Linked DNA regions of Homo sapiens. The protein of the gene in region 1 purifies or fractionates together with the protein of each later gene. This does not show direct contact. Each region holds a gene or a part of one and is shown in the gene's direction. Other genes may lie near its edges.

Evidence for each region.
Region 2: the proteins of ZCCHC9 (region 1) and LLGL2 purify together in Homo sapiens (co-immunoprecipitation; one large-scale study listed by IntAct). This does not show direct contact.
Region 3: the proteins of ZCCHC9 (region 1) and CMC2 purify together in Homo sapiens (affinity purification with mass spectrometry; one large-scale study listed by BioGRID and IntAct). This does not show direct contact.
Region 4: the proteins of ZCCHC9 (region 1) and MMAB purify together in Homo sapiens (affinity purification with mass spectrometry; one large-scale study listed by BioGRID and IntAct). This does not show direct contact.
Region 5: the proteins of ZCCHC9 (region 1) and OR1M1 purify together in Homo sapiens (affinity purification with mass spectrometry; one large-scale study listed by BioGRID and IntAct). This does not show direct contact.

Annotation. Positions count from the first base shown.
Region 1 is NC_000005.10:81,308,085-81,311,603, forward strand, and holds part of ZCCHC9 (zinc finger CCHC domain-containing protein 9), read left to right. Parts: intron 1-476; coding exon 477-627; exon of another isoform or gene 628-861; coding exon 862-954; exon of another isoform or gene 955-2,890; coding exon of another isoform or gene 2,891-2,942; intron 2,943-3,126; coding exon 3,127-3,195; intron 3,196-3,519. Other genes in the region: ACOT12 (acetyl-coenzyme A thioesterase), read right to left, coding at 2,891-2,942. UniProt on the Homo sapiens protein: May down-regulate transcription mediated by NF-kappa-B and the serum response element.
Region 2 is NC_000017.11:75,567,185-75,570,703, forward strand, and holds part of LLGL2 (LLGL scribble cell polarity complex component 2), read left to right. Parts: intron 1-1,291; coding exon 1,292-1,509; intron 1,510-1,587; coding exon 1,588-1,655; intron 1,656-1,793; coding exon 1,794-1,947; intron 1,948-2,036; coding exon 2,037-2,141; intron 2,142-2,778; coding exon 2,779-3,071; intron 3,072-3,163; coding exon 3,164-3,314; coding exon of another isoform or gene 3,315-3,326; intron 3,327-3,519. UniProt on the Homo sapiens protein: Part of a complex with GPSM2/LGN, PRKCI/aPKC and PARD6B/Par-6, which may ensure the correct organization and orientation of bipolar spindles for normal cell division.
Region 3 is NC_000016.10:80,975,885-80,979,403, reverse strand, and holds part of CMC2 (COX assembly mitochondrial protein 2 homolog), read left to right. Parts: intron 1-3,224; coding exon 3,225-3,311; 3' UTR 3,312-3,519. UniProt on the Homo sapiens protein: May be involved in cytochrome c oxidase biogenesis.
Region 4 is NC_000012.12:109,563,505-109,567,023, reverse strand, and holds part of MMAB (corrinoid adenosyltransferase MMAB precursor), read left to right. Parts: coding exon of another isoform or gene 1-13; intron 14-1,847; coding exon 1,848-1,905; intron 1,906-3,519. UniProt on the Homo sapiens protein: Converts cob(I)alamin to adenosylcobalamin (adenosylcob(III)alamin), a coenzyme for methylmalonyl-CoA mutase, therefore participates in the final step of the vitamin B12 conversion.
Region 5 is NC_000019.10:9,090,050-9,093,122, forward strand, and holds part of OR1M1 (olfactory receptor 1M1), read left to right. Parts: intron 1-3,073. UniProt on the Homo sapiens protein: Odorant receptor.

The DNA of each region.
Region 1 (3,519 bases):
AAATGTCTGACCCAAATTCATTCAATTATGTGAACTTTAAAAGAAATATTAATTTTTTAAAATTTTGAGTACATAATTATATACAAATACAAATTTTGAGTGACAGTTTTTATAGCCACTGTCCATTTCCTATAGAAAATGCCATTTTTCTACTGCAGACATTCCAGTTAATAAAATGAATAGTCCATATTTGCTCAATTCATTTAAGCAATTGCCGTCTACAAAGCCACATATATAACATTGTTCCTGAGATTTATGGATTTATTGATTGAGGTTTTCAAAAGCAATGAAACCCTCTGATGGAAAGGATATCTCGTTGTTTAGGAACGTATGAAAGCTTTTTTCTACAAATATTGAGATTTCAGAAAAATAGCTTAATAAGATGAGAAATGTTTTAAATATGTTTTTGATAACAAGAATTAATAAAGTCACTGGTATAGTTTTGCAGCGTGCCAACCTACGTTTTGTTTTCCTAGGTGTGTTTCCATTGTAGAAAACCTGGTCATGGAATTGCAGATTGCCCCGCCGCCCTTGAAAATCAAGACATGGGCACTGGGATATGTTACAGGTGTGGGTCCACAGAGCACGAAATAACCAAGTGTAAGGCTAAAGTAGACCCGGCTCTTGGTATGTGTTTCTTTCAGTTTTTTGTTTTGTTCATGGGGAAAGCCAATAAATAGCACCTTGGGTATTTTTTTAACACAATTTGTTACGAGTGTGCCACTTAGTATTTGGAAATCATATGAGATTAAATTTTAAGTTATGTAAATATATTTTTTATTCAGAGTATTTTAAAATAATGTTAATTTTATGACTTGCCATATGTATTGTCAACTGAATAGGAACTGTTGATTTTTACAGGCGAATTTCCTTTTGCAAAATGTTTTGTTTGTGGAGAAATGGGGCACCTGTCTAGATCTTGTCCTGATAATCCCAAAGGACTCTATGCTGATGGTAAGTACTGTTACCCTCATATAGCAGAAATGGTGAGTCATCGTGCAGTTGTGATTTAATTTACACTCAATCACAGTTCTTGAATAAATTCTTGAATAAATTGCAAAACCTTGAGAATTACATTATTTTTATCAAGTGCTATCATATGTACTAGGCTTTTTGTGCAATTTGACTTCAGATGTTAATAAAACAAATCAGAAAAAACTAAGGTGTATATTTCCAACTGTGCTTGCTTCATCATTTGTGAGACTATGTCATACATTTCTACTTTTAGACATAACAGAAGCAGAGAGATTATATCTCAAGCTAATATGAGGTTTTTAAAATCGTATTATATATTCAGCCTCAGCCAGCATATCATTTTGGTGGAGGGGTGGGTACAGATGATTCAATATTGTAGTAATGTTTGCTTCTGAATTTTTTTTCTTAGTTATTTGTCTGGTATGGGATCATGTAGCTTTTTTCTCTTTAACTCGGGTAATTAAGGTTCACACAGTAAAGTCTATGCGGTCTAAAGCTTTAAGGCGGAGGTTGTTATCTGTTAATGTGATGGCTGGTGCCATCAGGCTCTAGACGTTTCTTGTGTCATGTCCTGGGTTTCCCTCCTGGAGAAGTCCAGTGAAAAAGCATAGCTTTTGGAGTTGGTCAGACTTGGGTTACAGCGCCAGCACTGCCACTCACTAGCTGGGGGGCTTTGGCCAACTACCAAACTCTGATCTCCGTTTCCTCACCTATAGAGTGGAGATGATAAAACTATATTTTATTGATTCTAAGATGCACAGTTTTTCAATTTTAATCTCTTGGAAATCAGAATGTATCTTACCGTTGGTGGGTCCCATATAATTGACAGCTGTTTTTCTTTCTGAGAGGTATGTGCAATAATGATACATCTTATAATCAGTGGTGTCTTAGAGTTGATGAATTATGGTATTTGCCTAAAGAATTTTTATAAGGATTAAAATGTATTATTCAAGTGCTTCTCTTTCACTATGGCATATAAAGAGGCCAGGGCCTGGAAAATGCTCAGGTGCATTTCAGTTTTGAGCTTATAAAACTGGGTAGATAACATGACTAGTGAGCAAAAATGGCTTTCACTGGTCAACCAAAGTGACTAGCTGTAAAAAAAAAAAAAAAAAAAAAAATTAATGCAGCAAGGAGAGTAGATCCCATAGATGTGAAAATTTGGCCATATTTGCCTGTGTGTGCCTTGATTTTATACCTTGTAATCTTTTGTTTACAATAAGGGGCTTTCTGCGATTTGTTTTAATTTAGAACACTTTAGTAGCAATAGAAACACTGGATACATTTTTGTATGGTACATTTGATGTATATAGAATTAGTACTTTATTTTTAAGAGGTAAAGCATTATGTTGGGGGAAAAGTAGGGTGGGTTTCCACATTTGCATTTTTATGTTAAAAATAAAGTCAAGATTTGGGGGAAAAAAAAAAGAAAATTCAGCCAGATTTGTATCTGATTAGGTCATTTTTCTAAGTCACTTAACATTTCGAGCATGATCAAGATAATGCTTGACCATTAAGCAATAGTGTTTGATCATTAAGTGAAACACTTATTTTAGAAACCACATGTGTTGTAATTCACAATCCTGGAATGTTGTTTAAAGTAGGCAGGTGGGCATTTTTATAGGGTTAGGGTGCCTGGCCAGTGGAAGGCACTGAAACAAAAATTAACTTTATTTCTTTCATAAATGCTTACCCCCATCTGATCTGTACAGTAGAACAGTAGTTTCTAATCTGTTTTTGGGCCATTGACTGTTTGAGAATCTGACATGCTATTCAGGAAAGTGCATCTGCTTACATCTTTTGTTTACAGGTCCAAGGGTTCACAGACTCTTGATTGTCTAAGCATTGTTAAGATCCAGGCTTCTGTGCAATAGCTCTTGAACAAGTGCCTTCCATCATATCTCATTTCTTTTTCCTACTTCTCAAGGCCAGGTGCAAGAAGCAGTGGGTGGGTACAATTTAGTGCTCTGTGAGGTTAAAAGGAATGGAGAATGAATTAATAGGAATAGTGGCACCTCCCTATGATCCTGGTCTAGCTACCTTTACAACTGACAGGGTTGTGAGGATCCAGTAAGATGTGAAAGTGCTTTGAGATGTTAAAAACCCCTTGCAAGTATGAGATGGTATTCAGTGGCTTTGCTCTTTCAATAGGTGGCGGTTGCAAACTTTGTGGCTCTGTGGAACATTTAAAGAAAGATTGCCCTGAAAGTCAGAATTCAGGTGAGATCTCTGGGCCTCTACTTAGAAGGGGTGAGATTAGTATTCCTCTGCGTTTTATTCTGCACTTGTTATTAATAACTCAATTGGGATACTAATGATTTTAAGACAACCTGTTTTCCTACTGTAGCAATGACTTAATCTCTGTCAGCAATAGACACACATAGTATTGAGTAACTGAATAGTTGGGGGAAAAAAGTGACCAGTAAGCCTTAGGGGACCCTGACTTTATAAGACACCTGATTCATAAGCATTTATATTTGCTAACTAATGAATTTAATATAATAGAGCCAATTCTGTTACTTACAGAAAAATATGAATTCACTG
Region 2 (3,519 bases), on another chromosome or scaffold:
GCCAGGGGCAGTGGCTCAGCTGTAATCCTAGCACTTTGGGAGGCCAAGGATGGCAGATCACCTGAGGTTAGGGGTTCGAGACTAGCCTGGCCAACATGGTGAAACCCTGTCTCTACTAAAAATAAAAAATTAGCCAGGCATTGGTGGTATGTGCCTGTAATCCCAGCTACTCGAGAGGCTGAGGCAGGAGAATCTCTTGAACCCGGGAGGCAGAGGTTGCAGTGAGCCGAGATCATGCCATTGCACTCCAGCCTGGGCAACAAGAGCGAAACTCCGTCTCAAAAAATAAAAAAGAAAAACAAAAATTAGCCAGGCGTGGTGGTGAGTGCCTGTAATCCCAGCTACTTGGGAAGCTGAGGCAGGAGAATCGCTTGAACCCGGGAGGCGGAGGTTGCAGTGAGCTGAGATCGCACCACTACACTCCAGCCTGGGTGACAGAGCAAGACTCCATCTCAAAAAAAAAAGAGAAAAAAAAGACTGGGCACAGTGGCTCATGCCTGTAATCCCAGCATTTTGGGAGGCCAAGGTGGGAAGATCACTTGAGCCCAGGAGTTCAACACCAGCCTGAGCAACATGGCGAAACCCTGTCTCTACCAAAAATACAAAAGTTAGCTGGGTATCGTGGCTCACACCTGTAATCCCAGCTACTTGGGAGCCTGAGGCAGGAGGATCGCTTGAACCTGGAGGTGGAGGTTGCAATGAGCCGAGATCACACCACTGTACTCCAGCCTGGGCGACAGAGTGTGAAACCCTGTCTCGAGAAAAGAAAAAAAAAAAAAAAGACAAATGGTTTAATCATCCAGCGCACATTTATTGAGCACTAGCTGGGTCCAGGCCTGAGTGAGGTGATGTGATTGTGTGCAGTAAAGAAAATGCCACCCCTAGCAACTGGTGTGCTGAAGACCACGCGTGCTGCTGCCTGTGGGGAGAGGCTTGACAGGTGCATCTGAGCAGGGAGAGCAGGCCCCATGGAGGAGAAACCAGGGAAGAGGGTTGGCAGGCACAGCTGCATGCCTCTGGGGTGCCTATCCTGGTTGGGACCCTGCCTTCCAGCCAGGTGTATCCCCCCAGGAGCCCTGTGCCAGGGAGCTCTCAGCAGCCTTGCATGCAGAGCCAGGGCTACTGCCCACACCTGCTGCCCTCCTGGAGATGGAAAGGCTTTGCTCAAGCAGCCAAGAACAGGGCTTTCTGGATCTGCAGATGCCCTGGCTCCAACCCTGGAGCTTCTGATTCCACAGAGCTGGGCTGCTTCCTCCTGGCCCCGGCCCCTGACCCTTGCCCTGTACCCCAGCCTTTGACGACCCCTATGCCCTGGTGGTGCTGGCTGAGGAGGAGCTGGTGGTGATTGACCTGCAGACAGCAGGCTGGCCACCGGTCCAGCTGCCCTACCTGGCTTCTCTGCACTGTTCCGCCATCACCTGCTCTCACCACGTCTCCAACATCCCGCTGAAGCTGTGGGAGCGGATCATTGCCGCCGGCAGCCGGCAGAACGCACACTTCTCCACCATGGTAGGTCTGGCCCTGGCCCCAGCCCCAGCCCCACCGCAAGCCAAACTCTCCCATGGACTTCTTGGTCTCTTTTTCTAGGAGTGGCCAATTGATGGTGGCACCAGCCTGACCCCAGCCCCACCCCAGAGGGACCTGCTGCTCACAGGGTAGGGTACTTTGATGCTACCCCACCTCTTCCCAGTAGGATATGTGGGGTGGGAGCAGAGCCCTGAGGTGGACGAGCCAGCCCCTGGGCATCCCGGCTGGCATCCCTCTCACGCCTGGCAGGTGGGTTCTGCCCACAGGCACGAGGACGGCACGGTGCGGTTCTGGGATGCCTCGGGTGTCTGCCTGCGGCTGCTCTACAAACTCAGCACTGTGCGCGTGTTCCTCACCGACACGGACCCCAACGAGAACTTCAGTGCCCAGGGCGAGGACGAGTGGCCCCCACTCCGCAAGGTGAGGCCAGGAGCCTGGGACCCAGGAAGGGCAGAGGCCAGCTGGGTCCTGTCCCCGTGGCTGCTCACAGGGCCCCTCCCCTTCTCCAGGTGGGCTCCTTTGACCCCTACAGTGATGACCCCCGGCTGGGCATCCAGAAGATCTTCCTCTGCAAGTACAGCGGCTACCTGGCTGTGGCAGGCACGGCAGGGCAGGTAGCAGGCTGGGCTGGGGAGGGGGAGCTGGGGAGGAGTGGTCGATGACTGGGGACAGCAGGGACAGGAGCCAACCACCTGCCTAACGCACATTCTGTGTCCTTTGCTTTTCCGGTGGATGGAGGTGGCTTGATCCCCTTGGCGGGAGGTCCCTGGGATGGTTGTTTCTTCTCCAGAAATCGGAATTAAGGGCTGGGCCGGGCACGGTGGCTCATGCCTGTAATCCCAGCACTTTGGGAGACCAAGGCAGGCGGATCACCTGAGGTCAGGAGTTCGAGACCAGCCTGGCCAACATGGTGAAACCCCATCTCTACTAAAAATATAAAAATTAGCCAGGCATTTGTGGCTCGTGCCTGTAATCCCAGCTACTGGAAGGCCGAGACAAGAGAATCACTTGAACCTGGGAGGCAGAGGTTGCAGTGAGCCGAGATTGTGCCACTGCGCTCCAGCCTGGGCAACAGAGCAAGACTTGTCTCAAAAAAAAAAAAAAAAAATGCAGGAGAGCTGGGGTTGGACAGAGGCCTTTGTCCTTCCTTGAGCCTTGGGCCCAGCTCCTTTGCTGTCCCCACTAGTAGCATCCTGCGGCCCTGCCGTCCCTTTGCTGAGGGCTTGCTGAGCCACCTGCCACCCTGCGCAGGTGCTGGTACTGGAACTGAATGACGAGGCAGCGGAGCAGGCTGTGGAGCAGGTGGAGGCCGACCTGCTGCAGGACCAAGAGGGCTACCGCTGGAAGGGGCACGAGCGCCTGGCAGCCCGCTCAGGGCCCGTGCGCTTTGAGCCTGGCTTTCAGCCCTTCGTGTTGGTGCAGTGTCAGCCCCCGGCTGTGGTCACCTCCTTGGCCCTGCACTCTGAGTGGCGGCTCGTGGCCTTCGGCACCAGCCATGGCTTTGGCCTCTTTGACCACCAGCAGCGGCGGCAGGTCTTTGTTAAGTGAGCAGGGGCGGCTGGGTCCCGGGGCTGGGAGTGGGGCCCGCGAGGACTCCCAGGACCTAGCAGCACTGACAGCCTGCCATCCCCCCAAGGTGCACACTGCACCCCAGTGACCAGCTGGCCTTGGAGGGCCCACTCTCCCGCGTCAAGTCCCTCAAGAAGTCCTTGCGTCAGTCATTCCGCCGGATGCGTCGGAGCCGGGTGTCCAGCCGGAAGCGGCACCCGGCTGGCCCCCCAGGAGAGGTGAGGCCTGAGGTGAGGCTGCGGCCGGCCACGCACCCAGGTTCGGCTCAGAGCAGCCAGCAGGGGGGCCACACGGCCCCTGCTCCCCAGGCTTGCTAGGCTACAAACAAGATTCAGGGTCCAGGTCGCATTGTGTGACCTCAGACAGGTCACGCTGCTTCTCTCTGCCTCAGCTTCCTGAGCAGAAAGGCAGTAACTGTAATGC
Region 3 (3,519 bases), on another chromosome or scaffold:
TGTTAGTGACTTTTTGGTAGACCGTTGGAGATATTTTTCTTATTTTGTCTGAGTTTGTTTTCCTATACATCTCATGTTTTCTCTTTGAATTCTTTTCTAAGTCCTCTGTGTAGTTATGTTACTTTATTCTCTAATTTGTAGATGTTTATTCTCTAATTTGTAGATGTTTTTCTGTCTGCTTGCCCATCACTAATCTCTGAGTCTGCACTCATGTATTTCTTCTCTACTCTTAATGCTTGCTTCAGATGCTTTCCTGCTACTGTTTGCTTCATATGTCATCTGATTACTTCATTCCATGAAGCTTTTTTATTTTTTTATTTTTTTTGCCAGAGTCTCACTCTGTCACCCAGGCTGGAGTGCAGTGGCGCAATCTCAGCCCACTGCAAGCTCCTCCTCCCGGGTTCACGCCATTCTCCTGCCTCAGCCTCCTGAGTAACTGGGACTACAGGTGCCCACCACCACGCCCAGCTAATTTTTTGTATTTTTAGTAGAGACGGGGCTTCACCGTGTTAGCTAGGATGGTCTTGATCTTCTGAGCTTGTTATCCGCCCGCCTTGGCCTCCTAAAGTGCTGGGGTTACAGGCGTGAGCCACTGCGCCCAGCCTCCATGAAGCTTTTAAGTAGAAAAAGGGTATGGCCATTTCTTGTTGGGACTCCGCTGTGTCACTCCTTTTATTCTTTTTTTTTTTCTTTTTTTTAGAGAGATGGAGTCTTGTTGTGTTGCCCAGGGTGGTCTCAGACTCCTGGGCTCAAGGAGTTCTCCCATCTTGGCCTCCCAAAGTTTTGGATTACAGGTGTGAGCCACTGCACCTGGCCTTTTGTTCTTCTTCTTGAAAAGAAACACTAATAGTACTTTTGTGGCATTCTCTTTTGTCCCTCTTAATTGTTTTGTTTGGTTTGGGGTTAATTGGCCTTTCATTCTGTCTGTATTGTTTGATTGAGTTTTGTGAGTAACTTCATATTCATCCTTTTCTCCCCTTTTATTCAGGGACCATCTGGACTTCCTTTGGAGATGTCTTAGCATATTTTAATGTAGACTATATTTTAATTTGCTTTGTAACTTATTTTATTGGCCTGCTACAAAGTATTATCTTCTGAAGAGTTTCCCTTAAGACCCTTCTCAACCTGATTGCTGGGGGCAATCCAGTAGACGTGATTAAAGGTAGATATGAAAGCTTTTTCTCAGAGCAGGTATCCTTCCTTGTTCTAGAATACGTTTTATTGATTTTTTCCCCAACAATTTTATGAGTAAATTTAATGTATGATAGATAAAATGAATGACTTTGAAGGGACCTGGTGCTTCATGTGTAATTTAAAGTAGCTTTTTTTTTGAGACGAAGTCTCACTCTTGTCACCCAGGCTGGAGTGCTGTGGTGCGATCTCGGCTCACTGCAACCTCCTCCTTCTGGATTCAAGTGATTCTCCTGCCTCAGCCTCCTGAATAGCTGGAATTACAGGTGCATGCCACCATGCCCTGCTAATTTTTGTATTTTCAGTAGAGACGGGGTTTCACCATGTTGGCCAGGCTGGTCCCTAACTCCTGACCTCAGGTGATCTGCTCGCCTCAGCCTCCCAAAGTGCTGGGATTATAAGCATGAGTCACCGCACCCGGCCTGAAGTAGCCTTTTGACAAGGAAGTAATAAAAAGTTTGAAAACTACCATTCCAGAAGATATGTTAGAATCCTTCAGTCAAAACTTTTGACCTAGAAAACTTCTTAAAGATTATCTAGCCCACCTCCTTATATTTGAAGTTACTGGTCCAGAAGAGTGAAGTAACTCAAAGTCATGAATCCCCTCATTACTCTCTCTTGGGTGGCGGGGTTTGTCCCTGATGAGCTCGGTATCACTAATCTTTAATTTCTGTGGCCTCGCTCTCCAGATCTGTGGCTCCTAAAAGATTCTGATGTTTAACTGTTCACATGTTTTCAGTTTTTTCTGTTTGAATTTACTTTTACCCTTTTCCCCTTCTGCCCAGGGGAAAACACACTCATCCACCTTTAAAGTGTGTTGGATTGGTGTATGTATTATAAGCATGTACATATATACATATAAAAACACTTTTAAGGTCCTCTGCTTTAAATGTAGGTTAACTATTTAAGAAAATCTAAGTGCCAGGCTTTGTGTCTCCTGTTGTAACCTGCTGGCCAGATCAGAATACTAGGCTGAAAACCTCTTGAGGTGAAAACTGTGTTTATATGTAGCTGATTAAGAAACATAGGATTTGAGGAGTATCAGGTTTGTTAACTGTTCGTGATGAAGAAACCTTGGGAAGTTGAGCTATGTATTTCCATATGAGTCAATAGGATAATATGGTTGCTAAGAGCTAGTTACTCTTGATAATGTCTAAAGAAATACAATGTGAGCTGGTCTAAGATGTAGGCCCACTGTAGTCTATGTCTGTCATTGTGACTGGAGCACTGTATTCAATTTTGGTTGTGATTTTTTTTTTTGGTAAGGGGCATTAATGTTAAAGTGCTTTATGAAATAAAAGTCATTTTATAGGTTAGATATTAAAAGATGGAGGCTGTGTTCTGTGCAGCAGTTGTGGAAACTAGCAATGTTCAGCGCAAAAGGTAGTAAGTGGGTTATCTGTAATTAAATGTTTGAAAATTATAGCAGACAAGAAGAAATAAAAGGTGGTAGTTGACAAGGCAGCACTTTTGGTTTAAAATGAAAAACTTTGGAACGAGTAGAATTGTCCAACAGTTAGACAGGCTACCTCTCAAGGAGTTTACAGGGAAGCACTTTTGGTTTAAAATGAAAAACTTGGGAATGAGTAGAATTGTCCCAACAGTTAGACAGGCTACCTCTCAAGGAAGTGAGCCTCTCCACTAGAGGTACTCAGCAGAAGTTAGAGGACTAGTTAGACTGCAAGCCCCTGGAGAACATGGACAGAATTTGCCCATCTTCAGTACTTATTTAATTCAAATTTTGGGAGGAAATTGATTGAGCAAACATTTGTGCATCTATTAGCATGTAGATGCTGTACTGTATTGAATGAAATTGTGCTAGATATGAGATACTCTCTAAGGTAACTATTTCCAATCTCAGATTTGGTTAAATAAAAGATAAGAATTTTGTCAGTAAGAACATGTTTAAAAAATTTAAACCCTGTTAACCTCAAAGGACATTTATATTTTGCAAATATTTCTAAATAGTAAACTGCTATAAATAGTGACATAATCTGCTGTTTCTTTTCTCCCCCCCTTCTTTTATTTTTCAGTACGTAGAAAACAGGACCAAGAGCAGGGAGCATGGCATTGCAATGCGAAAGAAACTTTTTAATCCTCCAGAGGAATCCGAAAAATAAATTGTATTTTCACTCGATGCCTTGGCTGAGAGAAGACCTAAAGACTCTGGGTTGATACCTGAAAGAATCCTGTCTTATTTGGTCTCCATAATCCTTTGAATGGAAAGTGACCTGTGAGAGATTGAACCATGGAGAAATATGAAAACCCTGGATTCTGAGTATTTGTTGGGCAGGGCGTTTAGTACTGTCTCCCCTTTACCAGCAAACC
Region 4 (3,519 bases), on another chromosome or scaffold:
CGGGCCTGACTAGGTGAGATTTTCGGGACAGATAATGGGAGGTACAGATAGTCAGCCAGCCGGGTAGAGAAGGCAAACAAACCCCTTGGTGTGTGTGGGAGGGGGTCCAGAAGAGGGCAGACACAAGACCAAGTGGGCAAAGGGAGAAAAGGCCAGTTCTCGCATCAGCTATTCTAATGAGCTCTAAAACACGAGCCATCGTCTCTCAGTTGAGGAGGAGCGGGAGGTTGGAGAAACCTCAGTTGTGGATTCTTCCTTGGTCAGATATTGACCAAGCATCTGCAGTGCGAGGCGCTGCTCAACAGAGAACCTCAGCCCCGCCTTCCTGAGCTGCAGAGTGCAGGGAGCAGAACCTCAGCCCCACCTTCCTGAGCTGCAGAGTGCAGGGAGCAGGCAGCACTCACTGGGCAGCTACGAGGGTGGGAGCAGGCTTGGGGCAAGTGCCCAGGGTGGGGCCTGCCACTGGCCTGGTCACGGGGCATCCCTCGGCAAGCAGGTACTTCTGCACACCTCCTGTGAGGCAGGCATGGGGCATCCGCTATGATGGAGACAGACTGTGTCCCAGCCTGCACAGCCCTCCCTTTGGTCCAGAGGGGAAGACACACCAGACGGGAATCACATACTGGTGTGTTTAGTTCTAACTGTAAGATGTGCCAGGAAGATGGGCTGGATATTCTCCATTGGCCCTTTCAAATCCCTTCTCTTCACCTTCTCTTTATGCATGGGAGGCTGACCTTATCACCTGGTGGCTGTGCCACCTCGATTCGTTGGTCTTCTGGCATTCAGGTGGGTCCAGCCAGTGGGAGGCACCAGTAGGTGATAGGAGAGTGAGTGCAGAGAGCTCATGAGTGTGTGTGACCCTGTTCCCCAGTGGTGCATGGCTCTGGTGGCAGCTGGGCTCCCTACCTAACTCCCTCCCTGCTGAGTGACTCCAGAATTCAGCTCCCTCCAGGGTGAGTTGTACCTTCCCCGACCCTTGCCCTTCAGGCTCCTGCATTTCCCTGAAACTCTGCCCATACCTCTGTGAATTGTCCCTTCCCAAAGCCCTCCTCCAGGAATCCCTGCAGCGCGCCACTGTCTCCTGCTGGGGCACTGACTGGTGCAGGAGGGAAGTGCAGGGTTCTGAGGGAGGCAGAGCCAGGGTCCTGACCTGTGTCGGGGGGCAGTTTGCTTTCTCTGCCTTATGAGGGAAGTCCTCCCCAGCCTTCAAAGTCTCCCCTCCAGCATCACCTCCTCCAGGAAGCCCTCCCTGCCTCTCTAGCCAAGGTCAGATTAGGCTTCTATTGCTCTTTCCTTCAGAGCACTGATCTCAGTTTGCACCTTCACATTCAGGAGTATGTCTAATCTGATTACCTATCACACTCCTGAATATCACGCTCCTGAACATGAAGGTGTAAGCTTTGCCTGAAGTCCCAGAGACACTCAGCAGCGGTGCAGAATTTGCACCTGGGTCTGTCTGGTTCCCACTCACCTATCACCACAGGGCTGCGGGTCAGAGCTCAGGATCCAGCACTTGAGACTGTCACTGCTCACCCTGTCACCAACTTGCTGGAGAGAGCCTGGGTCAGCTTCTGTTCACCACTGACTCTCCTGGGCCTGGCCAGAGTAGCTGTTCAAAAGGAATTCTTGACTGGAAATAATGAGCATCCGAAAAGGCATTTCAAGAAACAAATACCACCGCCCCCAAATGGAAGGCTATAATGTTCTTATTGTTAGCAAGAAAAATAACATGGCTATTATAGCTAAATTAACTAAATGGCCTGCCACCTGAGAATCTATTGTTTATGGCAAGACAGGGCCTAGGGACATTACATTACAGGCAAATTCTTTTTCCTTTTTCTTCATAGGTTTGCTCTGGAATTAGTCACAGAAAAGGGCCATACATTTGCCGAAGAGCTTCAGAAAGTGAGTAACACCATCTCACCCAAGCTGGGAATCTTCAGCCCCGGTGGCCATCACGGGACTCAGCATCCAGCCACCAGTTACTCTTTGTGTCACCTGGGGCTAGTTACTCTCCCTCTGTGAGCTCCATTTCTTCATCTGTAAAATGCGGACAGGCCAGGTATGGTGGCTCACACCTGCAATCTCAGCTACTTGGGAGACTGAGGCAGGAAGATCACTTGAGGCCAGGAGCCTAGGTAACATAATAAGACCCTGACTCTACAAAATATTTGAAAATTAGCCAGGCATAGTGGTGAATGCCTGTAGCCTTAGCTACTCAGGAAACTGAGGTAGGAGGATCTCTTGAGCCCAGGAGGTCAAGGCTGCAGTGAGCTGTGATCATGCCACTGCACTCCTGCCTGGGCAAGAGATTGAGACCCTGTCTCAGGCCGAGCACCATGGTTCAATTAAGCCTGTAATCCCAGCACTTTGGGCGGCCAAGGTGGGAGCATCACTTCAAGCCAGGAGTTCAAGACCAGCCTGGGCAACTTAGGGAGACCCTGTCTCTACAAAAAAAAAAAAAAATTAAAAATTAGCCAAGTATGGTGGCATGCACCCATAGTCCCAGCAACTTACAAGGCTGAGGTGGGAGAATCGCTTGAGTCTTACAGGTTGAGGCTGCAGTGAGATGTGATTACACCACTGCACTGTAGCCTGGGCAACAGAGTGGGATCCTGTCTTTAAAAAAAAAAAAAAAAAAAAACCTCTGTCTCCAAAACAAACAACTGGAGACATATAATCTTCCTTCACAGGCGAGTGGGGAGGATTGTACTAAATGAGGGAATTTAAAATGCAACGGTTCTCAACCCAGGGCCATTCTGCCCCTCAGGGCCCGCTGAGCAATATCTGGAGACATTTTTGGTTGCCACATCTGGGTGTTGGGGGTGTTGCTGGCATGTAAATATCCTGCAATGCAGGGGACAGCCCCCGTCAACGAAGAATGACCCGGCCTTGAATGGCAATAGCACCGAGGCTGAGAAAGCCGGTGTGAAGTGCCTCGCTCATGCCCGATGCAGAGGGAACCTGGGAAGCCTAGCTGCAGTGAGCCCTCAGCCCGTGGGACTCATGCGTCACAGTGTCACTGTTCTGTTCCCTAAGAAGGAGGGGGCCTCTGACCCACGCAGAGAACTTCAAGCACGGAGACAGGGTCACCACCCCAGAATGCCCAGGGTGCCGCACTTTCCACCTCCACATGGACCCAGGTCCCCAGAAACCGCTCCCCGCAGGGTCAGCCCTTCCCACTTCCGTTCTGAAGCCCAGGCTGGAGCCTGCTCAGGCCCCTGGGAACAGACGGAGGGTAGTAGGTGGGGCTGCCACAGGCTGTGGCTGCAGGAGGAAGCCTCAGCTGCCAGAACATTCTGTGTGGTGGAGGAAGGCTTTCAACCTCCTGAGGAGCCGCGGTAGCAGCGGTCATTTCTGTCTGCTGTACGCGTTGGGTCGCAGCTGTCACGTCACCTCCTCAAGGGCCTTCCCTGGCCACCTAATCTCCAGCTGGGTTAGGCACTGCTCCTGGATTTCCACATCCTCTAACCACAGGCATCACAAGGGGTGTTAACCTGTTCACCCATCCACCTCCCA
Region 5 (3,073 bases), on another chromosome or scaffold:
ATTATTCTGTTGTCGTGAGTAGCAAATTAGCAGAGACCTTCGATCAGTGCCTGGCAATACAGGATAACCATCACTGATTCATGCGTATATGGAACAATTATGTTTATGTCTTCTGTATCCCAGACAAGATGCTGGTCACAAAAATGAACAAAGACAAACAATTCCTGATTTCAAATGTCTTGAGGACAGGGTCTGTGTATTTTCATATATTTGTCCCCACAACTCAGGCCAGATCCTGTCACTATATATTGCAATTACCAATAATTTTTTACAAAATGAATGAACGAATGCGTGAGTGAATAAAAGTGACATCTGCAAGGTGTTCATTAGAAATCACAAAAATAAAAAATAAAAATATAAAAGTAACATGATCAGAACTGTAATGCAGGAAGATTAATTTAGTGACTTCAGGATTGTTTCTTTTTTTTGAGATGGAGTTTCGCTCTTGCTGCCCAGGCAGGAGTGCAGTGGCGCAATCGGGGCTCACTGCAACCTCTGCCTCAGCCTCCTGAGTAGCTGGGTTTACAGGCATGCGCCACCATGCCCGGCTAATTTTGTATTTTTAGTAGAGACGGGTTTTCTCCATGTTGGTCAGGCTAGACTTGAACTCCCGACCTCAGGTGATCCGCCTGCCTCGGCCTCCCAAAGTGCTAGGATGACAGGCATGAGCCACCGCGCCCGGCCGACTTCAGGATTGTTTCAAAGGAAGATAATTGGATGCATGAGGCTAGCTTAAGATTAGTGAACTTGGCAACTCAGAAGTAATAAGAGCCTTTCATTTAGGGTGTCTGGAAAGAGGAGATGACTGGAAATGACTATAAAAATAAAAAGTTCAGGACGGGCGCGGTGGCTCATGCCTGTAATCCCAGCACTTTGAGAGGCCAAGGCGGGCAGATCACGAGGTCAGGAGATCAAGACCATCCTGGCTAACATGGTGAAACCCCGTCTCTACTAAAAAGTACAAAAAATTAGCCAGGCGTGGTGGTGGGCGCCTGTAGTCCCAGCTACTCGGGAGTCTGAGGCAGGAGAATGGCGTGAACCTGGGAGGCGGAGCTTGCAGTGAGCCGAGATCGTGCCACCGCACTCCAGCCCGAGTGACAGAGCGAGACTCTGTCTCAAAAAAAACAAATAGATAAAATAAAAAATGGAAAGTTCAGGCTGGGAGCAATGGTTTACACCCATAATCCCGGCACTTTGGGAGGCCAAGTGTGGGCGGATCACCTGATGTCAGGCGTTCGAGACCAGCCTGGCCAACAAGGTTAAACCCCATTTCTTTTTTTTTTTTTAAATAGTATTTGCACCACAGGTGCTATTGTTTATTTTAATTCCAATTAATCAAGAATTGCCACACATGCTAAGAATAAAGCTGTTGGATGTGAACTAAGGAGCACGTTGCTATTTTATTTTAGTGTCCAGATACTCAGCTGGGTTAAACCCCATTTCTACTAAAAATACAAAAGTGAGCTGGGCATGGTGGCGTGCTCCTGTAATCCCAGCTACTTGGGAGGGTGAGGCAGGAGAATTGCTTGAGCCTGGGAAGCAGAGATTACAGTGAGCCAAGATCGTGCCACTGCACTCCAGCCTAGGCAACAGAGCAAGACCCCGTCTCAAAAGGAAAAAAAAAAACAAAGGAAGGAAGTTCGACTTGTAGAGGATGTAACACTCATTGATGGATTGCCTTTGACGGTGGAGGTAGAAAGGAGGAAGACTGAAAATTTCAAACACAGGTATCTGGAAGGATGGTGATTCCATTCATGGACATAGTGGCTCCGGGAGAAAATAGACTTTATTTTTTTATATGTTGAGTTTGCCATGTCAGGAAGAAAGAAAAGAGGGAAAGAATGCTTTGTATAACCCTATTATTATTGTTGTTGTTATTGAGATGTAGTCTTGCTCTGTCACCAGGCTGGAGTACCGTGGTGTGATCTTGGCTCACTGCAACCTCTGCTCCAAGGGTCAAGCAATCTTCCCACCTCAGCCTCCCGAGTACTTGGAACTATAGGTGTCCACCATCATGCCTGGCTTTTTTTTTTTTTTTTTTTTTTTTTTTGGTAGAGAAGGGGTTTTGCCATGTTGCTCAGGCTGCTCTTGAACACCTGCATTCAAGCTCTCTGCCCACCTCGCCCTCCCAAAGTGCTGTGATTACAGATGGGACCCATCGTGCCTGGCCCTAACATTTTTTAATTAATCAAAAAAGAAGAAGAGTTGCTATAAATACTTCATCCATGGTTTAAAGTGCAACCTATATATAAGCTGTTGTCAGGCCAAGTGCGGTAGCTCACACCTGCAATTGTAGCACTTTGGAAGGCCTAGATGGGAGGATCACTCAAGCTCAGGAATTCAAGACCAGCCTGGACAACATAGCAAGATCCTGTCTCCACCACACACAAGAAAAGATAAATAAGCCAGGCTTACTTATGGTGTGTGCCTGTAGACCCCGCTACTAGAGAGGCTGTGGCAGGAGGCTGGCTTGAGCCCAGGAGTTCAAGGTTGCAATGAACTATGATTGCACCACTGCACTCCCTCCTGGGTGACACAGCAAGACCCTGTCTCTAAAAAATAATATCTTTAGCCTGGCGTGGTGGCTCACGCCTGTAATCCCAGCACTTTGGGAGGCCGAGGTGGGCGGATCACGAGGTCAGGAGTTCGAGACCAGCCTGGCCAATATGGTGAAACCCCATTTCTACTAAAAGTACAAAAAATTAGCCGGACGTGGTGGTGGGCACCTGTAGTCCCAGCTACTCATGAGGCTGAGGCAGGAGAATCACTTGAACCCAGGAGGCAGAGGTTGCAGTGAGCAGAGATTGCACGACTGTACTCCAACCTGGGTGACAAAGCAAGACTCTGTCTCAAAAATATATATATATGTATATATACATAATATGTAATAATATATATAATATTTCTATTTTAGAGACAGGGTCTCTAAAGTTACAACACCGTACATGTGTGGAATATATTTACATATATTCTCTCTCTCTCTCTCTCTATATATATATATATACACACACACATATATATTCTATATATACACACACACACACACACACACACACACACATATATATATATA